Homo sapiens: one gene and its partners. The protein of the gene in region 4 purifies or fractionates together with the protein of the main gene of each other region. This does not show direct contact. Each region holds a gene or a part of one and is shown on either strand. Other genes may lie near its edges. The genes, in order: HERC5, PDS5B, CKAP5, FAM234B, PEX11B, SLC25A51 and UBE3C.

The links.
Region 1: the proteins of FAM234B (region 4) and HERC5 purify together in Homo sapiens (affinity purification with mass spectrometry; 2 studies listed by BioGRID and IntAct, with this or other methods). This does not show direct contact.
Region 2: the proteins of FAM234B (region 4) and PDS5B purify together in Homo sapiens (affinity purification with mass spectrometry; 2 studies listed by BioGRID and IntAct, with this or other methods). This does not show direct contact.
Region 3: the proteins of FAM234B (region 4) and CKAP5 purify together in Homo sapiens (affinity purification with mass spectrometry; 2 studies listed by BioGRID and IntAct, with this or other methods). This does not show direct contact.
Region 5: the proteins of FAM234B (region 4) and PEX11B purify together in Homo sapiens (affinity purification with mass spectrometry; 2 studies listed by BioGRID and IntAct, with this or other methods). This does not show direct contact.
Region 6: the proteins of FAM234B (region 4) and SLC25A51 purify together in Homo sapiens (affinity purification with mass spectrometry; 2 studies listed by BioGRID and IntAct, with this or other methods). This does not show direct contact.
Region 7: the proteins of FAM234B (region 4) and UBE3C purify together in Homo sapiens (affinity purification with mass spectrometry; 2 studies listed by BioGRID and IntAct, with this or other methods). This does not show direct contact.

What each region holds. Positions count from the first base shown.
Region 1 is NC_000004.12:88,467,119-88,470,618, reverse strand, and holds part of HERC5 (E3 ISG15--protein ligase HERC5), read right to left. Parts: coding exon 3,415-3,500; intron 2,989-3,414; exon of another isoform or gene 2,913-2,988; intron 2,274-2,912; coding exon 2,197-2,273; intron 1,463-2,196; coding exon 1,359-1,462; intron 6-1,358; coding exon 1-5.
Region 2 is NC_000013.11:32,767,952-32,771,451, reverse strand, and holds part of PDS5B (sister chromatid cohesion protein PDS5 homolog B), read right to left. Parts: intron 1,332-3,500; coding exon 892-1,331; intron 802-891; coding exon of another isoform or gene 799-801; coding exon 691-798; intron 1-690. UniProt on the Homo sapiens protein: Regulator of sister chromatid cohesion in mitosis which may stabilize cohesin complex association with chromatin. May couple sister chromatid cohesion during mitosis to DNA replication.
Region 3 is NC_000011.10:46,762,781-46,766,280, forward strand, and holds part of CKAP5 (cytoskeleton-associated protein 5), read right to left. Parts: intron 2,477-3,500; coding exon 2,351-2,476; intron 851-2,350; coding exon 701-850; intron 400-700; coding exon 196-399; intron 1-195. UniProt on the Homo sapiens protein: Binds to the plus end of microtubules and regulates microtubule dynamics and microtubule organization. Acts as a processive microtubule polymerase. Promotes cytoplasmic microtubule nucleation and elongation. Plays a major role in organizing spindle poles.
Region 4 is NC_000012.12:13,057,881-13,061,380, forward strand, and holds part of FAM234B (protein FAM234B), read left to right. Parts: intron 1-570; coding exon 571-669; intron 670-3,500.
Region 5 is NC_000001.11:145,910,850-145,913,283, forward strand, and holds the end of PEX11B (peroxisomal membrane protein 11B), read right to left. Parts: intron 1,718-2,434; coding exon 1,312-1,717; 3' UTR 501-1,311; downstream 1-500. UniProt on the Homo sapiens protein: Involved in peroxisomal proliferation. May regulate peroxisome division by recruiting the dynamin-related GTPase DNM1L to the peroxisomal membrane. Promotes membrane protrusion and elongation on the peroxisomal surface.
Region 6 is NC_000009.12:37,897,628-37,901,127, forward strand, and holds part of SLC25A51 (mitochondrial nicotinamide adenine dinucleotide transporter SLC25A51), read right to left. Parts: intron 2,324-3,500; 5' UTR 2,202-2,323; intron 1-2,201. UniProt on the Homo sapiens protein: Mitochondrial membrane carrier protein that mediates the import of NAD(+) into mitochondria. Mitochondrial NAD(+) is required for glycolysis and mitochondrial respiration.
Region 7 is NC_000007.14:157,260,926-157,264,425, reverse strand, and holds part of UBE3C (ubiquitin-protein ligase E3C), read right to left. Parts: intron 1-3,500. UniProt on the Homo sapiens protein: E3 ubiquitin-protein ligase that specifically catalyzes 'Lys-29'- and 'Lys-48'-linked polyubiquitin chains.

The DNA of each region.
Region 1 (3,500 bases), on a different chromosome or scaffold from region 4:
TTTCCCTATATTAGTAATAAGACACTGGTTAAACCAAATCACATGGTATACATACATACAGCCTCTTTCTTTACAGCATGAGACATGATAAATACCACATCTTATAACTATCCTTCCAACCTCTCCATTTGTCTCCTATCTGTATGCATATTACCTTGGCTTGGCTTCTAAAAGTCCATTCTGTTTGGTAAATCTCAAAATTTCAGTGGCAAACATGGGAAATAAAAAAGTTTATACATACTCAGAGAAGCCTCAAATAAAGAGGAAAGGCTTGATTTATGGTCAGAACTTTCTTGAACAAACAAAATACTCCCACCCCACCAACTATGCAAGTCCTATTTATTTCTATTCCACTGAAGTAGAAATAAATTACCAGAAATTAAATGGGGGAAGGAGTATGCTCAGTTTCATCTTAGAAGTAGTTGTACAGTTCTTAATTATTTATGCTCTGCAAATTATGATGCAACTATTTTGTGCAACTACTTTGTACAATCATTTTCCAGAATTAGAAAGCCATACCTAAAAATATTTCTAAAAGATGATGTTTGTAAGAATAGGTAGGAGTTCTGTAAACCTATAGGAGTTCTATGGTTTAGAGAAGAATGGTACAAATTGTTCAGCTAAGAATAACAGGTACACAAACTAATGGTTCCAGGATCAAATGGGACTGGGAAACACTATAGACTCTATTTTCTGGCCAGAGAGTCACAATATACATAAACAGAGGCCTGGAGAAGCCCTACAGTAAAGAAAGCTGTCCTCATGGCGCTTACATGCTAGTTGTGATGGGTTAGTTTTATATGTCAACTTGGCTAGGCCATGGTACCAAGATATTTGGTCAAATATTATTCTGGATGTTTCTATGAAAGTATTTTTTTAGATGAGATTAACATTTAAAATGGTAAACTGAGTAAAGCACTTGAACAAGTGAATAAAAAGAAAGGACCTTCCATAATGTGAGTGAGCCTCATCCAGTTGAAGGCCTTAAGAGAAAAGGCTGAGGTCACCCAAAGAAGAGGAAATTCTGCTTTTAGATTGCCTTCAGACTTGAGCTGCAACATCAACTCCTCCCCAAGTCTCCAGCCTGCTGGCCTGCCCTACAGATTTTGGACTTGCCAGCCCCTACAATCTCATAAGCCAATTCCTTAAAATAATCTCTCTCTCTCCCCTCCATAGATACATAGATGGACAGACAGACATGATAGAGATAAAGATAGAGACAGAAATACACACATATCCTATGAGTTTGTTTCTCTGGAAAACCCTGACTACAAAATCTCATATTGCTGTGCAGAACCAGTTTGGGAAATGATACTTGAGAGTGATATATAAGCAGAGAGTCAGACTGTGGGGTGTACCTTTTTGTGCTCTGCCACCGTTTAGTCTCCACATCAGCAATCCATCTCTTTACAGTCCCTTCATTCAGAGTAGGAATTGTCCTCTTCAGATTAACATATGAATTCTGTAAACAAACAGGAAAGTAAAATACAATAATTTAGACACATCAGAGATAGGCACCCAACTTTTAGGTACACTCTAGAGAGTAAAACTGACTTTTAAATATGTGTAATACAGCCCTGGGACAATCACAAAGTGATACTCAACAAATAAGTAATCAATCATTTGCCTGGTTGCCACTTTCTTGTCCAAGGGGGCTTAGACTGAAAGTAAATTTCTTTGAGGACTCAACACTCAGCACTTTATACAAATACAATCAAATTAAACTGAACATCAGACAGCCTTGAAGGGAAGGGAAGATCCTGAAAGAGCTGTGTGCAGAAGTGTGAGGAACTCGATTTCACTTGGTGAAGTAGGGCAGGGAAGTTATGGACTTTTTATTTGCAAGCCCATGAACCTTGGTGTCTTTCTTAGTACTGGCCTGCAAAGTCATTTTTAGAATCTGTCACTCTGTTGTTTGCAAGGATACTGACCAAACATCATTGGCAAGTAGCCCCCAAAAGGTAAGTATAGCCTATGGAAATCACACTGATTAGACATTCACCAGAGAAAAATCTGCTGATTTTTGTGGGAAAATACTGATGTAGTTTAGACAATAAAGGATCAGTAATGTCCAGCTATCCCCCAAAAAGTCAGCCTGGTAAACTGATGATTTTGGAATTCACCAAACTGGGATACTAGAACCCTTAGTTTTGCTTAAAATACCAGGTTATAGAACACCTGGAGATCTATTTTTACCTCTTTCTTTATCCAGAGCAAAATGCTTTGATTCCCTCCAGCAATCATTATTAACTCCTTTTCTGAGGTATGGCTTTCTGAAAGGATGCACAAAGAGTAAGAGTTTTAGAAAGTCATTTGGCACAAACATGCATGTTCAATTTAAATAACTTCAGATTCTTCTTAAACGTAGTCATCTTTTCTTCTTAATAGACAAAACTTAGTACATTTTCTGCCAATTAAGCAGCTGAAATACATATCCTTTGGAGTAAAGTCTAGTTGGCAAACATAGGTAATTCACAAGGTGGACATGTGACATCAGTTTAATATACATAATACAAATATTTATATATAAAATGCAAATATTTGATTAGCTAAATGTTATCAGTTTAATTCAACTCCCATTACTAAAAACCATGTTTTCAAGATTTAAGCAATGACTGCTGGCTATAAAGAATATAAGTACTTTAAGCCCATGTAACTGTTATAAGGAATCAAAGATAATACATGCTGCTTAAGGAAATAACTCTGTTCGTTTTCCTACAAGAAATGAGTAGATTTTGTTACTTGAGGTCACCACTAAGCTTTCAGAAACAAGTAACAGAAATGCTCCAAGGTGCTTCTACAATGGAGTGTTTCAGAGCTCAGACTCTGAGGTCATAAAGGGCACGGGTTCAACTCCAGACAAACCACTTACTGGCCATGATTAAGTGGCTAACCCTTTTCTCTCCAAGTCTCTTTATCCTCCAGTAAAAGAGGAGTGACAGAATACACCTCCCAGGAACTGTTACAAGGATTGGTGAGATAACACAAGTAAGTGCTGAGCACAGTTCAGTGCCAGGTATACGTTGATTGCTCATTATTCTGAGGGTTTTATATGACTGTGGATCAACTTAACCAGGGCAACCAGCCAATTACAAGAATTAGTAAACAACTAATTACAAGAATTAGTAAGTCTCTTGCAAACTGGAATGAGAGCTGCATATGCCTCTGAATCCATTGTCTATTTTATCATTTAAATTCACATTAATCCTAATCTGAAGGAGTAATATAGAATAATTATTTTGCCTCAGTAAATTAGACTGACTCTTGAATTGTTTACCAGTAAAAAATGAAACCAGTATTTAGAGAAACTCCCTTCATAGTCATATGTTGCTTTCTTTGCCACATTACCTAGTTAGAAAAATCATTTTCTCTAAAAAGATACTATGCCAAACCCTATGTTCCTATAGAATTTACCAAGTTTGAGTTCTTCACTTGATGATACTTTCACTGGAAGCGGCATCAGCTGGTCACGTGTTCCACCATTTCCCAGTTGTCCATCT
Region 2 (3,500 bases), on a different chromosome or scaffold from region 4:
ATTTCCACTCACATAACTAAGGAGAAAAAACACTGTCAGATCTGCAAATTACAGCAGTGATACTCTGGTGACACTAAAATTTGAGGTACAGATTCTTACTGTACCTCTCTTATAAATGTGTTTGTGTGAACATCTAAAACTATATACATGTTGATGTAGATAAATGAACTGGGTTAGAAAACAAACAAAATCAAGATATCAAACACTTGAGACCAACATGTGTTAATTTCTATGGATATAATTTTTAAAAAATGGTACCTGTTACTTTCCTACTACAAGTTCAAAGAATAAAAGCAGAAGCATAAGACCTATTTTCCTTTTTTTAAAGGAAAAGGTGCTAATGAGAAACATTTAAAAAAAAAATTGTAGTGTGGAATGACAAGGCAACCTGGTCAATGTGTGGTGATTATTTAAAAATACCTTATGATTTCTTTAGATATCATAAAGTCTGTATAGGAAATAATATACTATTTGGTATTCATTTATGAAGATTTGCCTGCACCTGTAAAAATGTACAAGATAGTTTATTGAGATATCAATCACTAAGGTAAGTTTATAAAAATTTTATCTTACCTAGTGTAATGGGGCTAAATATATGGAATTTAAATACAGCAATATGTATGTTTACAAATTTAGGAACTTTTGCAAAATAATTTGAAATTGGTTTGAAATGTAATATTTACAACTTACACATTTTTTTTTGGTTGTGATGGTGATGGCGTTTTTGATGGTCTTCCTCGTCCTTTCTGTGGTGTGGACTGTGTGGATTCAATTGCACTAGATTCAGGAGATTCTGCTCTGCTTTGGGGAAGACCCAAATGTGGATAGCATCAAATTATGATTTATAATATAGTAACGAAACAGATGCAGTTTAGAGTTACACATGCTTACCTCTGCTGTGCTCTCCTTGACACTCGGTGCTGTTTGCTTTTGGACTTCTGTTCCGTATTTCCACTTTGTCTTTCTTCTTCTTCCTCCTCCTCTGGTGCTGGAGGTCCAGATTTTTTTTTGCTTCCTTTTTTAGAAGTTTTCATTGTTGGCTCTTCTTTTGGTGTACCTCCACCAAGAGGTTTTGGTGGTCGGCCTCTTTTACCCTTTTTTGGCGGACTATTCTGTTCATCTTCATTTTCTAATATATCTTCTTTGAGCCTCTTTTCCTCAGGCCACTGCTGTTCATCAGATTCTGAAGCCGTATGGCCTCTTTTCCGACTTCGCTGACTGCCTTTAGGTTTCTGTTCCTGTACCAACTTAGTCAAGTCATCCATACCTAATTTCTCCTCCTGTTCTGTGACGGGCGTTTTTTTCCTGCCTCTAGGCTTCTCCAATTCAGACTAGGGGAAAAAAAAAATCACAATTTATGGTTATGAAATTGTGAGTATACATATTTTGAGGAATGAAACAAAAAAATCTGTTATCTAATGTTGTCCTAGATATGTACCTAAAATATACAGCTCTTAAATACACCAGAACTGTATTTATTTGCTTTTATTATAGTTTTTAATTTTAAAAACTTATCTGGGATAAAAGGGTACATTTGCACTCTTACTTTTCAGCTAGAGTGTCTTAAAAGGAAACCTCTCAAGATCAGTATCTTACTAAATTATAAATTTTAGTGAAGAGCTATCTCATTAAAAAGAGCATTATAAATTCAGTGCTTGGTCCTAAATGACAACTATACTAAAGTATCTGTTTGGATAGTCAATTTAAGTAATTCTAATTTTACCACATAGTGCGTAAGACATAAAATATTAACTATATGACATGCTTACAACATCATAAAAGAACTATTATTTTACAAATGGAGGTTGCAAGATACAAAAGGTAAACATATTCATCATTTATTATAAATTTTGGAAACACTTCTGAATTAGAAATACTGCTTCTTTCTAGGTATAACTAACTGATTAACAACAGAAACAACAAAAAACCAGTGGCTTTCACATTTAAAATAAAATCCTAGTCTATATTCAGAGAATCTATATGTGAACCAGCGTGAAGGCTGAAGAAATTCTCCAAAGACCCAAGAATAAATTGTATGTATGAACACTTATAATACAAAGTTAATTTCCAAAAGTCTGCGCAATTTATATTTTCAAAAATCACTGAAAACAACAAAAACTATCGAATTATCTGTAACTTTTTCTAACTTTAAATTGAGCTTCCTGTATGTGAACTGCCTAATTACATCCTTCGTATTGTGTCCTTTGTCAACTTTGACTACTGCGGTGTTAGTGGGTTTTCTCTATATTCCTCTATGCTTTTGTGTATGCCTCTATGCTTATTTTTAAGTGTTATTTCTTTATTATTAATATTATCTTTTATTATTTTTGAGATGGAGTCTCACTCTGTCACCCAGGCTGGAGTGCAGTGGCACCATCTCTGCTCACTGCAAGCTCCGCCTCCCAGGTTCACGCCATTCTCCTGTCTCAGCCTTCTCCCGAGTAGCTGGGACTACAGGTGTCTGCAACCACGCCTGGCTAATTTTTTTTTTTTTTTTTTTTTTTGTATTTTTTTAGTAGAGACGGGGTTTCACCGTGTTAGCCAGGATGGTCTCAATCTCCTGACCTTGTGATCCGCCCGCCTCGGCCTCCCAAAGTGCTGGGATTACAGGCATGAGCCACTGCACCCAGCTTTTTTTTTTTTTCTTTTTTTTTTTTTTGAGACAGAGTCTCGCTCTGTCACCCAGGCTGGAGTGCAGTGGGTCAATCTTGGCTCACTGCAACCTCTGCCTCCCGGGTTCAAGCGATTCTCTTGCCTCAGCCTCCCGAGTAGCTGGGACTAGAGGCATGTGCCACCATGCGTGGCTAATTTTTGTATTTTTAGCAGAGATGGGGTTTTGCCGTGTTGGCCAGGCTGGTTTCAAACTCCTAAACTCAGGTGATCCGCCTGCCTCGGCCTCCCAAAGTGCTGGGATTACAGGTGTCATTGCACCTGTCCTTTAAGTGTTATTTCTTACTTGCTTTGGACTGAATTGTGGCCCCCACCACCAAAGAAAAAAATTGTATGTTCAAGCTCTAATCCCAATGTGACAGTATTTGGAGATGGGGCCTTTGGGAGGTATTTCGTTGAGATGAGGTCATGAGGTGGCACCCTCATGATGAGATTAGTGTCCTTATAAGAGGAAACATCAGTGAGCTTGGGTGCCTTTCTTCTTCCTCCCACCCCACACCTCTCATGTGAGGACACAGGAGAAGGTGGCATCTGTAACCCAGGAAGACAGCCCTCATCAGGAACCAAATCTGCTGGCACCTTGATCTTGTACTTCCAGCCTCCAGAACTGTAAGAAAATATAGTTCTGTTGTTTAAGCTACCCAGTCTGTGGTATTTGGTATTTTATAATGGCAGCTTGAGCTGACTAAGACATTATTGTGTATTGTTTTAGAACAGAATGTGAGATGAGATTCTAAACTGGATTTTCCACTCCCAAAGACACATCCAACCATTTCAGAATCAATGATTTGTAGTGCTTCCTTTATTTTATATGTTTTGAACAAGAATAA
Region 3 (3,500 bases), on a different chromosome or scaffold from region 4:
AATGATTAAGTGAGGCATTTCCTAAGTAGCAATGATTCTCCCATGCATTACTATGTTTTGAAAGAATAGGGAAATAGGGATAAGTAGGGAAGGTACCGTGATATAATCAGTAAAAAAGGGAGAGGAAATAAAAGTACAGAAACTGAGGTCAGCTGGGAACTTAAGCAGTCTCCCAGAGAGAGAACACCACATTACCTTGACGACAAGATAGGGGATGAAGGAAGATGCTTCATTCTCAGTAAGATGATATTCTTCTTCACTTAGCAAGGTGAAGAGCAATTTTAAATATTCTAGTGCTTTCATCAGGACGCTTGTATTGGTGTCAAAAAACCTCAGGGTAAGCCACTTTAAGATAAGATCCAGGCAACCAATAACTCCTTCTTTTTCACTCTCCAAGTGCTTAAAATAAAACAAAACAAAACTCCCACAAATAAGAATAATCAAAATCTTAATTCTACTAGGCAAGTGTCTTTTAAATTTTATTGGAGCCCAAAAAGAAAATGACAGATTTTTAAGCCTTCAATTAAGACCTAAAAAATATACACACACATTCATTTATTCTACCAAATAACAAGACAGCTCTAAAAATAGAGAACATAGTATATTCTACTTCCAAGTCATGCAAACTTCAGATTATTTCATAGGGCTCGGTATTTTTACATGTCTGAAATACATGTATATTTATCTATTGCAGACTTACATCAACCATAACAGCAAGGGCTTTGTTATGATGCTGAAAGTCTGAGTGAAACATCTCATCTTGTAACCATTTAGCCACACAGCTAGACATTTGAGTCTTTAGTTGCTCAATGTATTCATCCCGTGGGGTAGTAAAATTCCACTTTAGCACCTGGAAAAAACAAACGGTGAAAAGGGGCTACAGGGTGTTCAACTGAAATGAGGTAGAGAGCCTTATATAATGCAGCTGCAGGAACAATAAAATATTTAAAAATTCAACAATATTCATTTGTAATTAAATATGAATGCAAATTTCAAGGTGTCATACTTCTTGAAGCTTAACAACTCTGAAAATCTTCTAGGAATAAAAATTTTTGGAATTGTTTGTTTTTGAGACAGAGTCTCACCTGTTGCCTGGGCATGGCAGAGTGCAGTGGCATGATCATAGATCACTGTAGCATTAACCTCCCAGGCTCAAGTGATTCTTCTGCCTTAGCCCCCCAAGTAGCTGGGACTACAGACATGCACCACTATGCCCAGCTAATTAAAAAATTTTTTTCGTAGAGATGAAGTCTCAATATGTTGTCCAGGCTGGTTTTGAATTCCTGGGCTCAGGCAATTTGCCTGCCTTAGCCTCCCAAATTGTTGGGATGACAGGCATGAGCCACTGTGCCTGGCCTTGCAATTCTTACTAAAGAAAAAAAAAAAATTAATCCTACATATAACTATATAACATGGTGGACACTGCTGCCACATCTTTGATAGAGAGAAAATTTGAAATATCTATCAAAATTATGCATATCATCATTCTAGGAGTTTAATATAGATACACTCACATATGTGTACAAAGACCTACATTCAAAGATATTCACAGCAGCAGTGTTTGTAATAGTGAAAGACCAGAAACAACCTAAATGTCCAACATAGTGGGCGAAGGATAAAGAAAGGTACATACATACAATGCACCAATACAAACAGTGATACACACATATATACACAGATACGAATGATCTTTCAGATATTTCAAACATCATTAAAAGAAAATAGTGAGATACAGAACAAACAGTACGGCATGTCTGTATATGCCATCTGTATAAAAGGAGGGCTATATAAAAATATACATATGATAGTAGAGGTATAAAATATTTCTGGAGTAATACATTGAAAAAATGAGGACTAATATCCTCCCTGTGGAGGGATACTGGAACAGAGACATGCTTTTCTTACTATACTTTGCACTTTCTGTACTGCATATAATTTTTAAAAAAGATTATGTATTTTGAAAACAAATTTAAGTATCTAATGAAATCAAAGTAACATAAATGACTGAACTAGCCATTTATACAGTCACAAAGTCTGCCTTGTAAGGTCTTAAAAAGAAGGATTAATGAAGAAGCTTATACATCCAATTAATTAAAAAAAAAAATCAATGAAGATACCAAAAAAGCTACTAAATCATTTATTTCTATTTACAGGGAAAAATAGGCAATAACTCTATTCTATAGTTTCTTTTGTAGGAATTAATGCTCCCATAAACTAAATAATATAATTTATAAGCAAAAGAAACACTTAATTCCTAGATATTAAACAATAACATGAATTCAGACAGCAAAACTATTCTTGAATAACAATACAAGCAAAAATCTCCTGACGATTCTTAATCCTTCCTTACCTTCAATCCTTTTTCATCTTTCATCCTTTGCTCTTTTCCATTTGGAACAACAATAAAAATAGGCCCGGATTTGTCTTCATCCTCCTTTAAGCTGGTTTTGCTTGGCATCTTCTTCCCTTGTGCACTCTACAACCAAGGTTCAGGGAATACTGATTAGCTTGGCCACTTCTCCTTAAGAATATGATGCTGCTGCCCAGTAAAAGGGCACTGTAGAAAACAGAGATATCTTTCTACGTGATATTTCACATGAAAAAAACATGCATCACAGAATCTTGTATATGTTTTTGAACAGGTTCTCTAGAAATTTTTCTGAGAATATTCTTAAGTAACTGTTGGTTAGTTCTTGGACTGGCATGTTATGTAGTTGGAAAAACTGCTATTACTGATCATTAGTCTAGGTCACAAACTTTTTGTTTTTGTTTTCTTGAAATCTTCAACACTATTTATAGCTTTCCATATTAATGACATCTTTTTTTTTTTTTTTTTTTTTTTGAGACGGAGTCTCACTCTGTCGCCCAGGCTGGAGTGCAGTGGCGTGATCTCAGCTCACTGCAATCTCCACCTCCTAGGTTCAAGTGATTCTCCTGACTCAGCCTCCTCAGTAGGTGGGACCAAAGGCGCCCACCACCACCCCTGGCTAATTTTTGTATTTTTAGTAGAGACAGGGTTTCACCATGTTGTCCAGGCTGGTCTCGAGCTCCTGACCTCAAGTGATCCACCCACCTCAGCCATTAATGACATCTTGAATGGCATTTACACATTTCCAAACACTTAGTTTGAAAGCTTTTCTGTTTCTTTCCATTGATATTTAAATGTATCTCTTATCATAACAGTGTAACTGAAGACCTTTTGAACTTGCTTCTAGAGAAAGTTACAAGAAATGCTTTAAATATTTAAGTCACTAAAGTGGTTTTAAAAAATAATCCAAGATTTAAAATCTTCATATCAGATAGAAAGAAAATAGTAAACAATAGTACACATATTTAAGGTAAAATTCAAATTTCATTACTGGAATCATTATTATTATAAATGTAGCATGGCCACTATTTCTAGTTGGCCACAATTTCTTTCTAGTATAAACACTAATGTCATTCAGACCAAACAAATATGAGATCATTTATATGAAACTGCTTCGTAAGTTTAAAAAGAT
Region 4 (3,500 bases):
CCTGATGGTGGTGGTGGTGGTGGGGTACCTTGTTACATCCAGGAGAGGGTGGGAGCCAGGCTCCACATTCAGCCTTTGCTATATGAGTGGGTGGAGCTGGGCTGATAATTTTATCTGTTTGGTTGGAGTAGAGCAGTTATTATCTACAACTTTCCTGTCTTGCTGGACTGCACCTTTCCTGGGCTTTTGGCTAGGGAAGGCAGCCTTTTCTGGGGCTTTTTTTGTCTGTATCTGTGGTGTTTCTGGGTTGCTGGCTTTTCCAGCACCCTATCTGGGTATTATGAGGCCAAAAGAAAACCCAGGGGACTCATCACCTTGTCATTCCTTGGGTCTTGCAGTCCCTAGCTGGTCTGCTTCCTTCTCTCTGCCTTTTAGAGTTGTCTTATGTTTGTTTTATGTACAGTGTCCAGGGCTTTTCCATGCACTTAGCAGGGGGAGTAGGGAGAGGTGTGTCTACTATACCTAGTCGAGGAACTGGAGTCTGCCTGGTGTTTATAGAGCTACTGGCAACAGAGAACTGGTTTGTGGTAACTTGCTCAGGACCTTTTTGGTTTTTTATGTGTATAACAGGTGGGGACCTGTCTCCATTGGAATTGGCTGATGTGAATGGAGATGGCCTGCGTGATGTGCTTCTCTCCTTTGTGATGTCAAGGAACGGGAGTGCAGTAGGTAAGAGACGTGTTTTTTTCAAGGCTGCTACAGGGGCACTGTCAGCTAGGAGAAAACATCAGAGCTGTGTCCCAAGTGGTACTGCAGAGAAGGATCTGCAGTGAACAGAAAGTTACCATGGTTCTGGCATACATGAAAACCCTCATCAGAAAGCTTCCACATATAAATAAAGCTCAGTCTAAGAAATCGGAGGGAGTTAGAGCTGGAAGGAATTTTTAGTGGTGACCAGGCCAGTGAAGAAACTGTGATGCAGAGAGGAAGTGACTTGTCCACACACTTTGCAACGAACAGTGTTAGTCCTCGGGTTCCTTGGGTTTTCTCCTGGTTTTCCATTGCCTCTTAGATTATAGTGAACATTGACTTTATGCTACCCTCCTATCCCTGGAAGAAAACTTTTGTTCATAGACTTATACATCTTTACACAAATACCTCTTGGCCGGGTGTTTTCCTTTCCCCCTTCAGTTTACACTTGTAGACCTGCTGTCCATCCTGCTCTCTGCATGGGGAAGCTGAGCTGTATGGATGGTATCAACAGGCTTCCTTGCCTGCTGGTCTCCTTTCAATGGGGAGCACAGCTCAGGAATGGGAGGGGAGTAAGAGTGTGAGGGGAGGTATTCACTCCCCTGGCTCCCTCCCCGCCGGGGTCACTGCAGAATGGCTGCTACAGCCTTGACCCTGGGTCACAGCTCGTTTCAAGGTGGCCCTCCTATAGGACTTTCCTTTTCTGGATTCCAGTAATTGCGTCCTCTCCTTGTGTCTTTGTTGGGGAGCCTAACAGTTCTGAGGGTCTGCACTATCACTTGTGGTGTTTCTACATGCTGGCCACATCTTTGTGAATAGTCTCCTTAAGAAACCGTCCACAACTTACCCTCATTTAGGGTGCTGTTTCTGGGATCCCAGCTTTTACACATGTCAGCTGTAGAAAAAGAAAAAATGCGTTCTGATTTCAGCCTAAGTACACAAGGCTTTTGGTTGATCCTGCAGCCTCCACTACAGTGGAGTCAAACTGCAGCCTGTGAGCTGATGCAGGGACCTAGTTTGATGCTGAGGATGCCCTAGTGACTGCTTTTAAGTCGTCTAGGCCTTGGAATACATGTCTAGGTGTGTTTTAGAGAATTCTAAACCACATCTCTTACATTAGTAGGAGTGGCTTTCTGAGGCCCACATGAGATGTGGAAGCAATCTGGGTGGAGATCTGCTGTAGAGAGCATCTCCAGCCTAGGAGTAGATTTCCGTGCAATCAAAACTTGATTACACTTTTCCTGCCCGTGACTTCTGAAGTAAAAATCTTCCCCATCTACTTAGATTTAGAGATGTTTTTAGTCATTTGGTATCTTACGTAGTTTGCTTCATACCAAGACTCATAATGGCAAGGCCATGGGTTTGGACACAATATGGACCAGGCTGATTTGGCCACAGACTGTACAAATAAGGATATAGCGAACATATGGTGCTTTCTATGTGTTAATACACCATTGTCAGCACATAACGTATGAAGGAATTTATCCTTCCACACAGTCCTGTGAAGTAGACCCATTATTATCCCCCTTTTGCACATGAGGAAGGTGAGACGTTGTGAGGTTAAAGAACTTGCCCAGTCCTACTGCTGGTAAATGATAGAGCTGGGGATTCGGATCCAAGGAGTCTGGCTCTGGAGTTCATGTCCTTGACCCTCATGCCAAGCTGCTGTGCCCATAACCCACAAAGCTTTGTGCTACTGGACACAGAGGGATTGAGTTTTTTGTCTATTCACTTGTTCCTTCATTCAGCAACTGTGTGTTGATACTAACTGTGCGGCAGCCACTCTGCACCTTCTCTAGAGTTCTGATGGTTACACACAGACTGCCGAACAAGAGGAGCCTGGCTTTGGCCTCGAGAAGTCATAGTCTAGCAGGAAGGGGTAATCCATCACCATCTGGGAAAAGACGAGTCAGAGCATTGTAGGATGGAGTAGGGTCCTCCAGTAGGAAGAACCACACAGGATAGGGATCCTAGCACCTTTGAGAAGCCTGGAAGTTACCATATACCACCTCTGTTTGTCATATATATCTTCTGGCAACAGGGTCTGAAACAGCCAGCCATTGTTTGTCACTTGTTTTTAGGTTGTATATTCAATTAGTCGTGCTGAGGAATAGGTAGAAGGAAGCTCTAAAAGTTTTGTTTCCTTATCCATATTAGTTGTTGCTGAAAGTGGGAACTGTATGAAATGAGTCACGTGTCCCTATCCTGAGAGTGAATGTGAAACTGACAAGGGAGAAAGTTCTGAGTCTGATGTAGTAATTAAGTGACATAAAGGCTTATTTACTAAGGATCATGGCTACTCTAATCCCTTACCAGCTGTACTTGGATCTAGGTATTAGGTCTTCCCAAATATTTTTTCCTGACTGGGACCAAATCAATTGATTCCAGAGAACTCTAGACTAGCAAGACCCACTCATCATTGCTATATGTAATCTTCAAGTTTATTTTTTCAAAAAAGAAAATATTTTTCTGCTCTCAGGAAGCATTTATTAGTGATGATTAGAATTCAGGTATTTTGCTCCCCGCGCTGCACACGTTCTGGATCAGTCTCATGTTTCCGAGCATATCTTTTCCTCCTGGTTTTTTGTTCTTAACTACTTTTTCGCATTCTTGATTTTGCTCCTGTCTCTTATTAGGCAAACAGTCGGTTGCTGTAGGTACAGAGATTAGTGAGACAGTCTTTCTCCTTAAGGATATCACCATTTAGTTGGGGCCGAGGTGGCAGACATGTAAAGAGTAGTGTTGGGAAAGGTGCAGAAGTGGAGATGCATTCGACAGTGTAGAGGAGGCCACAGCTCTTGTCTTACATG
Region 5 (2,434 bases), on a different chromosome or scaffold from region 4:
GGCCGATAGATTCACTTCCTAACCTTATTTATCTCAACCTGGAATATGGAAAATGAAAGAGCTGATAGCAGTGGTATCATTTCCCTACCCACCCAGGGGAGTCTCAACTTGTGAAGACACAGCTCCAAATCCTTACCAGCCCCACTCCACTTGGTTCTGTCCTTGGCTCTTAGCCTATGCTGTCATATGGCATTCTGCTTCTTAGAGGGATTATATCTGAACTGGTATGAGATGTGCTTTGTGGAGCCAGGACAATAACTTTAGTATTAGACCACTCCTCTGCCACCCCAACTCCTCAGCTAGGTTATAAACTTCTTAAAGTTGGGAGTGTGGAGCTTCTTAGATTTTTGGATGCCCACTAAGTATGTTGCTTTACATACTGTAGGTGCTCAAGAAAAATAATGTGGGTGATGTTAGTGGCTAATCCCGAGAAAAACCCAAACCACAGTGACAGGAATAGGGGCCTCAAATTACCAAAAAATGAGGGACCAGACCAAATGTCGATGAGCAAACTGAACTTTAATTTGCTTACCTGAAAGGCTTGCTCTTCATTATTGGCATAGGCCACAGCTATTTACACAGAATCATTGTACAGGATTTACAGCAAGATGCTACACATAGCATCATTCTGGATAAGCGACAAAGGAGTAAGAACAGACTGGGGAATAAAGCTCTGAAATCAAAGTGTAAGCAGAAATCTGAAGGTAGGTGTACAAGGAAGGATAAGGGCCAAATGATGAGCGAGGTTGGTGAGGTAGACATAAGGGAGGAAGAGGAAACATCCAACAACTTGTGGTGCAGAGATATAAGGGAAGAGTCCACTGGCACATAGTCTTAAAAATTATGTTTGGAGTTTGAAGGAGGAAAAATCTGCCATAAGCCACCTCTGTGAGAAAAAAGAAGGCAGTTAGAACCTTACAGGCCAAACCTTATACCTCCCCTATCAAAAAGTAATTCTGCTGATTAAATCCCTGGATAGGAGAATGAGAAGGTTGAAAAAAGAAAGAGAGAGATGCATAGACACAGAACCTTAAACAGAGTTAAGAGACACAAAGTAAATATATTCAAGAGAGACACAAAGAAAGAGGAAAAGAACAGAAGCTCAGGCACATCTAGAAATTAGAGACATCCTATTAACTTCACGAGTCATCTTTCCTTACCTCATCTTCCCCAAAGCTCTTCCTCCACCCCTAAATCTCTGAATTTCTAACTTTAACCAAAGAGTAGAATTCGAATGAGGCTGGCACATGGGGGACGATCTAAGATTCCATCTCACCAATTCAGGTCCCCTCCTTATCCTGTACCGGAAGGTCAGGGCTTGAGTCGTAGCCAGGGATAGATTAGGGTGAGAATAGACAGGATGGAGGACACGAGGCCACAAAGCCCCACAATCCCAGGGCCACAGCGCCAGAGGCCTAGTTTGTCCAGAGGAATGAAGAGATCACAGGCATTTCTGACCACGTCTAGCAGAAGTGGGGGATGACCTCTAAGGACTCGAGCCAGGAGCAGGACTTGCAGCCGAAGTTTCAGAGCCAGTTGGGGCAGACCTCCTCCTGGAGTCCCTGGTCCCCCAAGTCCCCCAGTTTCACTTCCTCCTGGGACTCCTCCTCCAGAACCTTTCAGTCGCCGGCTACAAGCAGAAGACTCTTGCTCCATCAGTAGGCGAATCTCATAAGCATCACGGCTCAAATTCATGATGAGGGAAAACAAATAGTACCTGATACACAGAGCAAAAGGGTCAGTAAGGGCATGTATACCTACTTAACATATCCAACATCACATTTTAACATTTTCTTTTCCTGTAGCAAAGAGATTACACATTAGATCAGAAGTAAAGTGAATGCTATTACCCCTATTAGAAATGTCCTCCATCGAGGACACTATGCTAAGCAAAATAAGCCAGACACAGAAAGACAAATACTGCATAATCTCACTTATAGGTGGAAGCTAAAATAAGGCCGGGCGTGGTGGCTCATGCCTGTAATCCCAGCACTTTGGGAGGCCAAGGCAGGTGGATCACCTGAGGTCAGGAGTTTAAGACCAGCCTGGCCAACATGGTGAAACCCCGTCCCTACTAAAAATACAAAAATTGGCCAGTTGTGGTGGCCAGCACCTGTAATCCCAGCTACTTGGGAGGCTGAGGCATGAGAATTGCTTGAACCCAGGAAGCAGAGGTTGCAGTGAGCCGAGATCTCACCACTGCACTCCGGCCTGGGCAACAAAGCAAGACTCTGTCTCAAAAAAAAAAAAAAAAGGCTAACTCATAGGGGCACAGAATAGAATGGGGGTTGCCAGGGGTTGGGGAGTGAGGGAAATGGGAAGATACTGGTCAAAGCGTATAAGTTTCAGTTATGCAAGATGAGTAAGTTCTGGAGATCTAATGTACTACATTGTGACTATAGTTAACAATACTGTATTGTATATTTGAAATCTG
Region 6 (3,500 bases), on a different chromosome or scaffold from region 4:
GGATTATAATAAATTATAATTATAATCCCTATATATAATTACATATATATATAATTATAGTTCTTATATTTTTCTTGACACCTGTGGGAACTCTCCTAGGGATTATCATTAAGTTGGCTTTCGGTTTTAAACAGGAAGTTCTTGTCATCTGAGTGTTCATAATCCAGGTCCTAGCAGTTTTCAAGTTTACACAGGGAAACAAATCATCAAGACACAGAAACGTTCACTGATCAGCTGAGTCATATATGATTTATTCCACTCAAGTATCCCTCCTCCCTATTTATCATCTACCCCTGCCCATCTGTAGGACTCTACTGTAAACATGAAGTGCAGGAGGCCTTCCTTCTGCTATCACATAATTTCATCTCACAAATCATGCCAAAAACCCCAAGACTTCAATCTATATTCATTCTAAGAATTAGTGGAGCTGCAATTATAACTTAAGCTCCTGCCCCCAACTATTAACTATGAAATTGTGCTTCCCATTAAAAATGGATTCCAGGCCAGGAGCAGTAGTTTACACCTGTAATCCCAGCACTCTGGGAGGCCGAAGCAGGCAGATCACTTGAGGTCAGAAGTTCAAGACCAACCTGGCCAACATGGCAAAACCCTATCTGTACTAAAAATACAAAAATTAGCCGGGGGTGGCCGGGTGCGGTGGCTCACGCCTGTAATCCCAGCACTTTGGGAGGCTGAGACGGGTGGATCACCTGAGGTCAGGAGTTCAAGACCAGCCTGACCAACATGGAGAAATCCTGTCTCTACTAAAAATACAAAATTAGCCAGGCGTGGTGGCGCATGCCTGTAATCCTAGCTATTCGGGAGGCTGAGGCAGGAGAATTGCTTGAACCTCGGAGGCGGAGGTTGCAGTGAGTTGAGATTATGCCATTGCACTCCAGCCTGGGCAACAAGAGTGAAACTCCATCTCAAAAAAAAAAAAAATTAGCCGGGCATGGTGGCATGCACCTGTCATCTCAGCTACTTGGGAGGCTGAGGCAGGAGAATTGCCGGAACCCAGGAGGCAAGGTTGCAGTGAGCCAAGATTGTACCACTGCACTGCAGCCTGGGCGACACAGCAAGACTCTGTCTCAAAAATAAATAAATAAATAAAATAAAAATGAATTTCATTTTTCTAGTCAACTGATAAGTCAAACTGAGAGAATTTTCAAACATGGGAAGGAAATATACATTTATTATTGTTGTACTGAAGTTCAATCACCTCCACACCTTCCCACCGCCAATAACTCAAGAGTCTATCTTAAACTTTGGTCAAATGCTTTTAGAAAGCTCCTGAGATGATCATACAAACACTGGAGACAGCCAGTGTAATATTTAAGAGTACAGCCTCTGGAACCTACTAATTACCTACTTAAATCCTAGCTCCACCACACATGTACTGTGTGACCTTTGACAAGTCACTCTATAGCTTATTCTCTTTATAAAACGTGGCTATTAACTACCTCATAGACTAGCTCAATTAACTGAGCTAACAACATGTAAAGTGCCCAGGACAGCAGTCTAGTGTACAGTAGGAACTCAACAAGGGCAAGCTATTTTATTATTCTTTTCTATCTTTTCTGACTTATTCATTTGGTGTATTATGTTAGCATATTTCTTGGTGATTACTCACTCTTGCAATATGTGGATAAATGCTACTTGGCCGTGGTGAAATATTCTTTCATCATACTGCTAACTTCCATTTACTAATATTTTAAAATTTCATATTACTGTTCATAACAGATCATGTTGTCATTTTTTTTTTCTTCTTTTACAAGACAGGGTCTCACTCTGTCACCCAGGCTGGAGTGCAGTGGTACAATCATGGCTCACTGCAGCCTCAAGCTCCTAGACTTAAGCAATTCTCCCAGCTGGGACCACACACGTGCGCCACCATGCCTGGCTAATTTTTCACTTTTTTGTAGAGACAGGGTCACTCTGTGTTGCCCAGGCTGGTCTGAAGCTCCTTGGCTCAAGCAATCCTCCTGCCTCAGCCTCCCAAAGTGTTGGGATTATGGGCATAAGCCTTGGCACTCAGATAAGTTTTCAGTTTTAATACTATCTTCACATCAAGTGCCAGTGTCAATGTTCCACTGGCTTTGTAAAAAGAATATGTGATTCCCCGCCCCCCCACCCCCATCATACTGTAGAACAATTTAAATCTTATCAAAATGATGTGTTCCTTGAAGTTTAATTGCATTCACCTGTGACATCTGAGCCTGGAGTTTGGCAGGATGATAGCTTTGTGATAATGTTCCCAATTTCTTCCATTGTTATTGTTCTGTTAGGTTCTCTCTTCTTGAGTCAATTTTGATAACTGGATTTCCTTAAAAAAAAAAAAATTCTGGTTTAATTTATATAGCCTTTTTTTTTTTTTTTTTTTTTTTTTTTTTTGTAGAGACAGGGTCTCACTATGTTGTCAACGGTGGTCTCAAACTCCTGGGCTCAAGTGTTCCTCCCACCCTGGCCTCCCAAAGTGTTGGGATGACAGGCATGAGCCACTGCTCCCAGCCTATTTTTATTTTTAAAGACAGGATCTTGGCCAGGTGTGGTGGCTCACGCCTGTAATCCCATCACTTTGGGAGGCCAAGGCAGGCGAATCATGAATGAGGTCAGGAAATCGAGACCATCCTGGCTAACACGGTGAAACCCCATCTCTACGAAAAATCCAAAATTTAGCCAGGCATCGTGGCACGCACCTGTAGTCCCAGCTACCTGGGAGGCTGAGGCAGGAGAATTGCTTGAACCCGGGAGGCAGAGGTTGCAGTAAACCAAGATCACAGCACTGCACTCCAGCCTGGGCGACACAGCAAGACTCTATCCAGAAAAAAAAAAAAAAATGACAGGGTCTTGTTCTGTCACCCAGACTGGAGTACGGTGGTACGATCATGGCTCACTGCAGCCTGGACCCCTGGGGCCTCAGTCTCCTGAGTAGCTAGGACCACAGGCGCATGCCACCATGCTTGGCTAACTTTTAAAAAACATTTTTTTAGCAGAGAGGGGGCCTTGCTATGTTGCCCAGGCTGGTCTTGAACTCCTGCCTTGGCCTCCCAAAGTGCTGGGATTTACAAGCCACTGCACCCATCCAACACTTGCTGTTTTAAAAAATTACTTCTAACCTGTGTACTTATGTTCCCTTTTTTCTTGAGCAGGGTTATCAGTTTATCTAATTTATAACCTTACCACTCCTAGCAAAGCAGCAGCTTGTGAATTACCAATCTTACTATTTCTCAGTTTTGTTTTGTTTTTTTGAGACAGAGTTTTGCTCTGTCACCTGGGCTGAATGCAGTGGCTACCTCGCAGTTCACTGCACTTACTGCAGCCTTGACCTCCTGGGCTCAAGCAATCCTTCCACCTCAGCCATCTGAGTACCTGGGACCACAGGCCCGCACCACCAAGCCCAGCTAATTTTTGTATGTTTTGTAGAGACAGGGTTTCTCTACGTTGCCCAGGCTGGTCTCAAACTCCTTGGGCTCACATCATCTGCCAGCCTTGGCCTCCCA
Region 7 (3,500 bases), on a different chromosome or scaffold from region 4:
GGTGTGTGTGTGTGTGTGTAACAGGCCGAGCATGTTGACTCACACCTGTAGTACCAGGTGTGTGTGTGTAACAGGCCGAGCATGTTGGCTCACACCTGTAATACCAGGTGTGTGTGTGTGTGTGTGTGTAACAGGCCAAGCATGTTGGCTTACACCTGTAGTACCAGGTGTGTGTGTGTGTGTGTGTAACAGGCCGAGCATGTTGGCGCACCCCTGTAATACCAGGTGTGTGTCTCTGTGCTTAACAGGCCGAACATGTTGGCTCACACCTGTAATACCAGGTGTGTGTGTGTGCACGTAACAGGCTGAGCATGTTGGCTCACACCTGTAATACCAGGTGTGTGTGTGTGTAACAGGCCGAGCATGTTGGCTCACACCTGTAGTACCAGTGCTTTGGGAGGCTGGTGTGGGAGATCACTCAAGGCCAGGAGTTTCTGACAGCCTGGGCAACAGAGCAAGACCCTACCTCTACCAAAAACAGAAAAAATTATGCATATCTACATTAACACACACTCATGTAGGTAGATAAAACACATACTAATTAAAGGAAGGAAACATAAAAAAATAATGGTTAGAATGGGAGGAAATATAGGTTTCTTATACTTGATCACAATTTCCAATTTTCTATAATGAAAACATTACTTTTACTGAAAGGTAAAAAAAAAAAAAAAAAATCCAATATAAAAAAAGTGCTTTCGGTGCCAACAGCGCTCCCACAAAGTGAATGTTCCTAATACTTGCTAGACTTTTTTTTTTTTTTTTGAGTTGGCGTCTTGCTCTCTCAACAAGGCTGGTGTACAATGGCACAATCTCGGCTCACTGCAACCTCTGCCTCCCAGGTTCAAGCAATTCTCTTGCCTCAACCTCCCGAGTAGCTGGGACTATATGTGCCCATCATCACACCTAGCTAATTTTTGTATTTTTAGTAGAGATGGGGTTTCGCCATGTTGGCCAGGCTGGTCGAGAACTCCTGAACTCAGGTGATCCGCCCGCCTCAGCCTCCCAAAGTGCGTGAGCCACCACACCCGGCCCCCGTTCGACTTTCTGTAAGTGTGGCAAGCCCACAAAGCGACACGGCACAAAAGGGCACGGATTCTCTGTATGCCCGGGAAGGTGGCGTTAGGACAGGCGCCCGGGGAAGGTGGCGTTACGACAGGTGCCTGGGAAGGTGGCGTTAGGACAGGTGCCCGGGGAAGGTGGTGTTAGGACACGAAGCATAGCGGCTACGGTGGGCAGACTAAGCTGATTTTCCGGGAAAAGGCTAGAACTACGAAGAAGCTTGTGCTGAGGCTTGAGTGCGTTGAGCATAGGTGCAGATGTAAGAGGATGCTGGATATAAAGAGATGTGAGCATTCTGAACTGGGAGGACAGAAGAGGAGGAAGGGCCAAGACATCCAATTCTAAGTGTCATCTTTTGTTTTATTATGAAGACAATACAATCTTGAGTTTATGTTCAAAAAAATTTAAAAAATAGAAAAGGTAATTACCTTCTAACCATTGTAGTCAAATGTGAATCAAACTAGAGCAATGTCCCATTCTGCAGGAACCTTTGGAAGCACTGAAGCTGTCACAAAGCACAACAGGCACCCAACTGGCCACACCCACATTTCAGTTGGATTTTGTTTCAATTATATGTTGAGTTTAGCATATAATTTATGTTAAGGGTAAAACTAGTAAGAGCACAGCCCACAAAATGCTATGAAGAGGATGGGCGCGGTGGCTCATGCCTGTAATCCCAGCACTTTGGGAGGCTGAGGTGGGTGGATCACCGGAGGTCAGGAGTTCGAGACCAGCCTGGCCAACATGGTGAAATCCTGCCTCTACTAAAAATGCAAAAAAATTAGCTGGGGGTGGTGGTAGGTGCCTGTAATCCCACCTACTCGGGAGGCTGCGGCAGGAGAATCACTTGAACCCAGGAGGCAGAGGTTGCAGCGAGCTGAGATGGGCCATTGTACTCCAGCCTGGGCAACAGGAGCGAAACTCTATCTCAAAAAAAAAAAAAAAAAAAAAAAAAAAGCCTATGAAGAGACTTACATGATTCTTATTACTGATCTTTGTAGGTCTCTTTACTGTTAAATGTAAACTTCATTAAAAAATATATATGTGGCATATAATATGTGCTAAAATCCATTGTCTTTTTTTTTCTAATTATAGTTTATTTGCTCCTTTAAATCTCTCATAAAAATGTTAGAATGAGAACCAAAGGAGAACCAGAAATAACATTTATTACACTTATTATTCAGCATTCTGAGTACATGAGGGCAATAATTTTCACAAATGCTTGAATATACTAAAAAGGAAGCATTGCATTTTTGAAACAGAAAAGGATCTCTGAATGAAGGGGTCAGTGACTGCTGGCAAAGTCACTGGATAAATGAAAAGCTTAAAATATATTTTGCAATTAAATGCCACATTTTAGTGTTTCTTTCATAACGCTAATTGAATTTCCTACTTGGAGACTTAAAAGTAAAAAAATGAAGTTCTTCACTGAAATCTGAGTCAAGGGCACCATTTTGTGCATAATTAAATACAGTACAACGGGAATTTGCATTAATTCAGAGTGAGAAAAATCATTAATTTATTATGTGGCCTGATGGTAACTTAACAATTTTCTACAGCACTTTAATGATTTTTTGTCTGTAACAATCACATTTATTAAACATATTAAACTTTAATTAGCTTTAGCAGATGTTATTCTTCTCCAATAATCTGGCACTAAGGAGTTTCATAACTTTAAAATTATGCCTGCCTGCCTTTGCTATTTATAGTACTTCAACTGAAAGACATTCTCTTCCTTTAAGTCTACATTAATTCTGCAGCCCTGGCAAATCCAGGCATACTAAGCTAACCGGAAAGCCTAAATATTAAGATGATTTTTCCAAACTGGATGTCTAACATATAACAACTTCAAAAACACTTATCATGGAAAAATCAATTAAATTTCACATATGTTAGAACATTGAGAAAAATAAAAAAAACAGTAAGACCGTCTCATGGATGCTCAAAGTGTTTTCCACGGTATAACTCAATTATGATTGTGCGGGGTCTTGACTGGGGTAGGATTTTCCCTTTTAGTCTATTTGGGATTTTTTTTTTTTTTTTTTTTTTTTTTTTTTTTTCAGACAGAGTTTTGCTCTTGTTGCCCAGGCTGGAGTGCAATGGTGCAATCTTGGTTCACTGCAACCTCCACCTTCCGGGTTCAAGCCATTCTCCTGCCTCAGCCTCCCAAGTAGCTGGGACTACAGGCATGCACCACCATGCCCGGCTGATTTTTTTTTTGTATTTAGTAGAGGCGGGGTTTCATCATGTTGGTCAGGTTCGTCTTGAACTCCTGGCCTCAGGGGATCCACCCGCCTTGGCCTCCCAAAGTGCTGGGATTACAGGTGTGAGCCACCGCACCTGGCCAGTCTATTTGGGATTTTAAAAGCTCATGTAAATCCCTCTACTTCTGTTCCCCTAAACCTACGACGCTCACGCAGCACAAGTGGCCATGCACGAAC